Regions from separate parts of the Homo sapiens genome. Here region 1 is linked to region 2. Evidence: fine-mapped expression QTL. A gene starts in region 2. The other region holds a variant in brackets. All regions are shown on one strand. Distances are between the middles of the regions.

Evidence for each region. PIP is the estimated chance that this variant, and not a neighbour inherited with it, causes the effect.
Region 1: its variant is fine-mapped to the expression of PAM in whole blood (INTERVAL, PIP 0.98).

Annotation. Positions count from the first base shown.
Region 1 is chr5:102,783,655-102,788,045 of GRCh38, reverse strand. The region is part of intron 1 of PAM (peptidylglycine alpha-amidating monooxygenase); the gene reads right to left. Among named protein-coding and RNA genes, the nearest start is that of PAM, 31 kb to the right of the region's middle. The variant A/G (reference allele first, on the strand shown) is at 1,641.
Region 2 is chr5:102,753,621-102,758,011 of GRCh38, reverse strand. PAM (peptidylglycine alpha-amidating monooxygenase) reads right to left here and starts at 2,707. Exons shown (of 26, transcript NM_001177306.2): 1 at 2,664-2,707. RefSeq lists enhancers at 1,984-2,073, 1,645-2,145, 3,153-3,678 and a silencer at 2,464-3,013.

The sequences.
Region 1 (4,391 bases), 30 kb before region 2:
GACTTTCCTCAAGTATTTTTACGGTGAGGAATAGCAAAGGATTTTTCACAGATATGATACTATTTTAGTTCTTAAATCAAAAGCAAATTGATCTATTTTGCCAAATTTGCCAATAATGATAGCAGCAACCTGGAAATATCTACCATACATGAATAATTTAATAAATCCCAAGCCAGAGACTCACTATAATGGCTTAGAGAACTCCAGTTCCATAGATGGGAGATATGAATACTGGAAATACCCAACATTTCCTGAGAATAGCCAACATTTTTTTCTCTGAAATGCTCTATAATTGGTTGGATTTTCCATTCACTCACCAAGGGATTCGTAACTCTGAAGGAACTACGGGTCCCCTAGGAAGTATCAAATACAAATTTCCTTGCTAAGAGCTGCACAATAGTTTTCTTCCAGGAGTGAAGCTGACTGGGGTCTTGTTCAAGCTGAGTTTAGGCATTTAGACCATACAGTAGCCTATTTTCTGTACCTTTCACTAAGCCCAGGAAATCTGTCCCCATAATTGGGCACAGATTTCCTGGGCTTAGTGAAAGGTATAGAAAAATTTACATTCACATTTTAGCTGTTAAAGGAGGCAGTTTTGTCCCCACAGTTGGGACAGATCTGTCCCCATAGTTGGGATAGATTTCCTGTGCTTAGTGAAAGGTACAGAAAATATGTCTCAGGTCCCAGAACATAAGAACTCTAGACAGCACGGGATAATGGTAGCTACATTTAGAACATGGCTGGAACATGCTCAAGTCAGAAGAGCTGTGTGGGTCTGGCGGGACCTAGAGATGCAAATACCAAGAACTACATCTATTCTTCTTCTGCCAGCTCCCAACCCCACTTGAAATAGATTGAAAAATAAGGATGGTAAAACTATTTTGAGGAGGATAAATAAAATGCTAAGGATGAAGCATTTCTCCTTGGCCTTTCCACCAGCATAATGATTTCTAAATTAAGAGATTTTAAGTGAAATTCAGATCATTATAATTCAACAGCAGTAATGAACAGCCTTAATTTACAAATCTCAGATGGGAGAGTAAGATTTTTTTCTGCTTCCAGAGGTGTTACCTTCTTCTCATTACAGGGGTCAAATATATCTGCTGGGATTTATCATTATTATTATTAATTATAATCAGCCTTTGCTTGGTAGTTATCTTATTTATAACTTTTGATATAGAGTTTTTAAGATATATTCTTGACCTCTATACCACATATCAAAAGAGTAGTAAGTTACTTGTTTCTTTTCAAGTAAATTATTGATTTGCTACTGACTATGCTCAGAATGATGAATGAAGTAAGATTTCAAGCTGTGAAGAATCTGGAGCCCAGTACCTTTCTGACCCGCAACTTTGACCTAAAAAATGGCATGTGTCTAACTTGGAAAGTAATTTTTAGTTGCTATTTATTTAGAAATTATACTACATTTGTGATGCCTTTCTCCATTTTCTCCATGAATGGTTCAAAATTTAATTCCTAGAAATCACTAGTTTATAATCATTCCCTTTGATGTTCAGCAGTTCATAAAACTAACAGAAACCACATTAAAAAACTCAGAAACTGTTAATAGCAACGATTTAGAAAATAAGACTAAGTAGAGAATAAAAAATTGATATTAATAAGAGCTTACACTAATGATT[A/G]CGAATTAAATTCTAGGCGCTATTCAAAGTACTTTTACAGGTTTTAACTCATTCAATGCTTACAAAAAGCCTGAGATGAATAATACTAATTTCTCCATTTTGCATATTAGGAAATGAAGACGCTCAGAGTTTAAGTAACGTCTGTTCAAAGTCACACCTTCTACATGTGGACAGAGCTCAGTCTGGCTCCAGGATCTGTGAGCTTACATGACACAAAATTGCCTCCTTTAACAGCTGAAATGTGAAATGTATTCTTGCTTGTGTCCTCTCAGTTCTTTCTCTGAAAATGAATGTGTTCACTGTACACTTGACCCAAGAATGGAACAGTAAATTTACAAAATGCAAACTTTGCTTTACCATAATTCTGCTAACATATTCCATAAATTCTAATAATTATTAAAAATAACTTCATATAAATGATCCAATGTAAGAGATTATAGTTTGTGTAAAGTTCAACATCTTTGGCTCAATTTGAAATAAAACGAACATGTTAAAAAAATAATTTAGTACATATATAACCACTTGAATGAATGATTTTTAAAAAGTTAAATACAATGGTGAGAACTTCCAACACCACTCCTTACTCCCCATTTGTTTCCAAAGTTCCAGAAACCAAATTTCCAACGAGACAAAAACATCTCTTACTAGATGCTTGAAGACACCTTATATTCAATACTTTTATGGTTTCCCCCAACTTACACTTTCTAAACACATTTCTGCCTTGTTTCATGATGTCACTTAACTAACTCAGAAAGAAATTATATTTTCTTTGACCTCACTCTCTCCCTCAACCTCTTCAAGCCAATCAGTCACCATATTTCACCATTTCTGTTTTTGAAACATCTCCTGATCCCACCACCTTCCTTCCTTCCTATAACCACCACTCTAGTTCTTATTGCCATCTTCTTACCTCCACATGATACTTCTAAAGGTAACAGCTCTAACAGGTTGCCTTACCCTCTGGTTTGTCCCTTATTTATTCAGTCTCCCACGTATCTACCAAAGTTCTTTTGTAAAACACAAAAGTACAAAGCTTTTTAAGTTTCCAATTGTTTATAACAGAGGTTCTCAAACTTTAAAGGGCATGAGATTCATTTGAAAGGCTTGCTAAGATACAGATTGCTGGGGACTCCCCCCTCCCTTTTCTTATTAAGTGAAACTGGGAAGGGGCCCAGATATCTGCATTTCTTACTAGTTCACAGGTGGTGTTAATGCTGCTGGGCTAGCATCACTACTTTTTAGTGTCCCAATCAGTGCTGTGCATTAAAACTACTTGGGATACCTATGTAACAAACCTGCATGTTCTGCACATGAATCCCAGAACTTAAAGTATAAAAAAACAAAGAACAACAACAAAAAAGTCTATTTGGGGAAGTTTTATAAAATGACTTGCTGAATCCTAAACCAATTATATGCGGGCATTGCTTTTTTGTTGTTTTTAATCCTCCAGGTGATTCTGATTTCCTAAAGTATGGAGAATCACTGGTGTTTAGTAAAAAGTTCCAAATCCTTAACATGGCATTTAAGACCACTCACCTGGTGTTTATGCACTTGCTTTGCCTAAAAATTCCTAGTAAACGAATAACAACAATAATAAAGTTTGCCTATCTAAAAGCATGTATTCCCAAATGATTTTGTGTGAATTAAATGAGATAATATATAGTAAATGCCCGCCAGTGACTGACACAAAGTCATGTTTCACATAAATGTTAACATCAATTCAATTCAACAAATACGTTGAGTATATTTTTAATTCAATTCTACATATATGTATGACTCACCCTTAATATGGAAGAGGCTACATTCTCTGCTGGGAATATCTGGTTAGATAAGACAGAGATGGTACCTGTCCTCAGAAAGTGAACAGCACAAAAGTAATCAGAGTTTAAGGTAATGAATACCAAACGTTAGTGACTTTTGTAATAAGTACTGTACAAGGAGGAGGACAGGGTCATATGAGAGCTTACAACAGTGATACCTAAATTTTTCCAAGCTTACGGTGCCAAGGAAACCTGAAATCTAAGGTGTGTGGGTGCAAGGGGGGAAACTGAAAAGCGCATTCTAGCCCACCAAAACAGCTTGACCCAATAGCACATAGGCAGGAGCAGCTTAGGTGTGCTAGGGACAGAAAGGCTGGTATGATTGGAGCTTAGAGGTTACACAGGGAGAAGAGGAGCACCAGGTAAGAACAGAGAGAAAGATGGGGGTAGATCAGCCGGGCGCGGTGGCTCACGCCTGTAATCCCAGCACTTTGGGAGTCTGAGGCGGGCGGATCACAAGGTCAGGAGATCGAGAACATACTGGCTAACACGGTGAAACCCCATCTCTACTAAAAATGCAAAATATTAGCTGGGCGTGGTGGCGGGCGCCTTTAGTCCCAGCTACTTGGGAGGCTGAGGCAGAATGGCGTGAACCCTGGAGGCGGAGCTTGCAGTGAGCCGAGATTGCGCCACTGCACTCCAGCCTGGGTGACAGAGCGAGACTCCACCTCAAAAAAAAAAAGATGGGGGTAGATCATGAAGAATTTTGAACTTGATCCAAGAGGAGAGGGAAACCATTCAAGTGTTCTACAATTAGGTCTTCCTGAGGCTGTCACCCTCCAGCTGGTATGCTCCCTGACGGCAGGCGCTGGGTTCTATTCATCTTCCCCTTTTCCATTCTAGTTAAGTGGCCCTCATACTGCTGCATGCACATCCCAAGGGATACTCAAAGACATTCCAGTATGCAAACTGGCACAGAGGTAGTTTAAAG
Region 2 (4,391 bases):
GGAGTGTGGTGGCATGATCACAGCTCACTATAGCCTCAACCTCCCAGTTTCAAGAGATCCTCCCTCCTCAGCCTCTTGAGTAGCTGGGACTACCGGCGTGCACCACCACACCTGGCTTTTTTTTTCTTTTAATATTTTTTGTAGAGAGAAGGTCTCACTATGTTGCTGGTTTCAAACTCCTGAACTCAAGCAATACTCCCGCCTCAGCCTCTCAAAGTGTTGGGATTACAGGCATGAGCCACCACACTCAGTCTCACCAAGTCTCGTAACTTTTAAAGTCAAATTTCCAGAGTCACTTCAGGACCCACCAGGCCTTAAGGTCCAGCTTATTAAAAATCTTACATTAAATCTCTGTATATTTTTTCTAGGCATTATAATTTCCTTCCTCAAGGAGTTGAGAAAAAAACTGTATGTGGGAACCACAACATACAGTTGAAGGAAGTTAGAATTAAAATTTCTATAGCTTTTAACATTTGATTAGCACATCATACATGTGTAGAATGTTTTCCTAAGCTTTCATTCTAAAAACACAGAATTCATTTTATTTCCAAGTGCACCTTGATGAAGTAGGAGCACATGGCATTTTATTTTAGAAAGCAATGTCTTAACAAACTTGTTATTTCTTCCAATTATGCAAACTCACCAAATGATTTTTTATCTATTTATTTATTTAGTTTTATCTTTTTTTGAGAGAGTCTCACTCTGTCACCAGGGCTGGAGTGTGTGGAGTGATCTCAGCTCACTGAAACCTCCACCTCCCAGGTTCAAGCGATTCTCCTGCCTCAGTCTCCCAAGTAGCTGGGATTACAGGTGCCTGCCACTATGCCCAAGTAATTTTTTGTATTTTTAGTAGAGATGGGATTTCACCATGTCGGCCAGGCTGGTACGGAACTTCTGACCTTGTGATTTGCCCGCCTCGGCCTCCCAAAGTGCTGGGATTACAGGCGTGAGCCACCGCAGCCGGCCAAATGATGATCTTAAAGGGCCTTTGATAATGCATTCTTGACCTCATTCTACTTGCCATGTATAGTCATTAGAAGACTGTTCATATAAAAATATGAAATAAAACTACATAGTCTTTAAGTTACCTTGGAAGGCCCTTCAGGACAAGGAACATACTCTATATCTTTATATCTTTAAAGCATATAGCAGAGTGCATCGCGGAATGAAAATGCCTATTAAGTCAGGAATGCAGGAACGACAGGGCTTACCATTTAATATCAATTCTAAAGCTGATTATTTATTTTTGAGACAGGGTCTTGCTCTGTCACCGAGGCTGGAGTGCAGTGGTATAAACACAGTTCACTGCAGCCCTGACTTCCTGTAAAGCTGATTTTTTAGGCCATTTACTTGCTTTATAAAGTAACTAGAATGGCATGAACTATGCTTTTTTGTGCCTGTGATTATAAACTGAAAATTTACAAACAATATGTCACATGTTATTTGAGCTAAATGTCTGATTTTACTAAAATGAAAGTATCCTTCCTGGATTATTAGAATTAGCAGTAAATTTAAGTTTGCACCTAGAAGAGAAAAGCGATTGTAAAGAATGTAAAACATCTGAAGCAAACAAAGTCCAATAAGATCTTCCTTCTACTTGAATTTCTATGACCACAAAGGCACAGGATGTAAGGTCCATAGCTTTGTACACAGGGATTGGTGGGGACGACACGATTTCAACTCTGAACCCCAATGACCAGCTCCAGGAACACATGCCTTTTAGCCCCGCAAAGCTACTGACCAAATCACCCAGAGAGATAATCACATCTCAGCCAAAGGACCTGAACTCAGACGATCAGAACACAGGACCTGCCATCAGGCAGCTGCACGAGACAAGAGACCGTGCTCAAAATCACGTAATACCCTAAGTCATCCCAAGGGAGCCCCACAACTACCCTCAGCGGCAGGCAGAGCTGACGCATATTTTGCAGATGACAACATACAGGTTCCGATGGGGCGGGTCCCAAGGCCACAGAGCTGGGAAGGTGACTGAACCTAGACTTAACTAGTATCCCAAGTGGTGGATACTTCCCATTCTGCCTTGGAGATCGCCCTTCGCCCGCGTATTACATTCGGAGGCTGGCAAAACGGCAGGAAGAGAGCAAAGCTGGGCAAGGACGGGAAAGAAAGAGGGGAAGGAATTTCCACTGCTTCCCGGCACTCGCCCCCACTCCACACCCCAGGTTGCTACTCCGCGGCGGCCTCTACTTCCCCAAACTAGACTGAAGGGCGGGCGGAGAACCGAGGAGGCTTTCTAGGCGTCACGGAGAGTTCTCCAAGTTGGGGGCAGAAAAGGCGAATGAACAAATTGTACCCCCTAGGGAGAGGGCACAAGGAGAAGTGCGGAGGTGAGAAGGACCGGAGGGGAGGACGACCCCTCACAAACTGGCCAGGGACTTAATAATGGTGATGAAGGGTCGTGAGAGAGGTTTGGGAAATGCGAGAATAGCTCAGTCCCCAAAATCCTCCCTGGCCGCATCGCTGGATCCCCGCCCCATCCCCCCACCCCCGACCCGGGCAGCCCGGGAGAAAAAGCAACAACCTCCTGGGGCACCAGGAATTGGTGGCAGCAGGATCCCGAGCCCAGGCCCCCTTCCGCGCCCCCACCCTCACCCTTGCCCTGACCGCCTCGCAGTGGCGGCAGCAGCGGCAACAACACCAACCTGCGCGACCACGGGCTCTGTCCGGGACGGAAGCCGGAGCCTGCGGGCGGCGGAGCGGCGGGCGGAGTTAGTTGGAGGCTCCGGCTCCCTGGGCGGGGACAGGCTGAGCACGCGGAGGCAGCGGCGGTGGCGGGGGCTCCCTCTCCTCGGCGTGCGCCGGGCCCAGCCGGGTCCGCCGCTCGCCCTCGACTCCTGGGGCAGGTCTCAGTCCCTCCCCGGGGGCGGCTCCCGGGCCAGCCCCGCGCTCGCCTCCTCCACGCCGGCGGCCTCTGCTCCGCCCTGCCTCTTTGGGCGCAGGGGGCGCGGAGCTTGGGAAGTGGAGCCCTGGCGAGTCCCCAGCGATTGCGCGCAGCTTCCCGGGGTTTCCCTGCGGGGGTCGCGTGTGCTGGGTGTCTGAACTCACGCGCGGGCCAGAGGTAGCCAAGAGCTGGAACTCTTGCCCAAGTGCCCCGGGGAAGGGAGTGAAGGCCCGGCCTGAAAGTCTCTGACCCTCCCGAGTCTCGTGTCCCTAGAAGCAGCCTTGCGAGGTGGCCACGCCAGCTGCCCTGAGAGAAGCAGAGGAAAATGTCCGACTCTCCCTCCGCCCAGCTTCGCGCCAGAAGAACGTTTCCCGAGAGAAGGAAGGACCCATTGACCCCCAGCCCTTGCTCCAGCCTGGAGACCTGGCTGAGTGCATGGAACTGGAAGGATGGCAGAGTACCGGGGCTGAAAGCCTGGGAAATGTGCTATTTCTATTCACACCACCCCCTTGCCCGGCCCCTGGATTCAGGCCACCTCGCTCAGGTCTGCGCAGTGCTTCCCAGTTCACACCTCCGACCCGAGGAGGGAGGTCGGTATCCCTTTCTTAGCCTGGCTTCCCGCCTCCATCTGCATCCCTTTCTGCTAAACCTTTTTAACCCGCAGAGTGCCCAGCGCGCACACACCGATCACTTCGCCCCTAAACTGCGGGCAGGGAACTCTGGAGCCACCCACATCCCCAGCCTCACCCCAAAGCAAGAGAAAGCAGGGAGCCGCGCGTGGGGTGGTGGGGGCGGGGCTGGAGAGTTCCAGTAGGAAGGTTTTATACCCAAGAGGCTTGATGATGTGCAGTACTGACCCCACACACAAATTGATATGCGTTTAATTGAAGGCAGGTATTTGCCACTGTCTCTCCCTGTCTGCAGGTAACCGCTTGAGTGCGTTCACCTCGCCTCTTCCATCCCCAGCGCCAGCCCAGCCCCCTCTCTTTCTCCCAGAGTCCCATCCTCCTCTCCCTCACCTCTCCCATCCCAGCTCCCTGCAGCGCGGGTCCCGAGCTGCTCCAGATCCCCAGCACCCAGCTCTGGTCTTTCCAGACAACTCCTCCCCTTCAGAATCTGGTGTGGTAGCAGGGAGGTTGTGAGAAGGGACACTGAGGAAGATAAAGAAGGAGAAGCCAGTGGACTGGGAAGAAGGTAGGAAAGTGCGAACCGAAGGGGTACACCGGAGAGGAGCTATGGGAAATGAGGCAAAGCCTTCAGGCTATAGGGGGATTCCCAGAAAGAAAATCATTTTCTCCATAGGGAAACTACCGATGCTCGCTGTAGACCAGTTGGAAAATCTGTTGTACACCCTCCCAACAGAATTCCTAGTGAGCAGTGGCCAGACTGGTCAGGGCCTAGAGCATGTGTCCAGGAACTCCATCCACTTCCCAACCCAAATTCCAAGGCAGGCGGATGACCCTCATTTTGGAAACTTGATTCTGAGAAG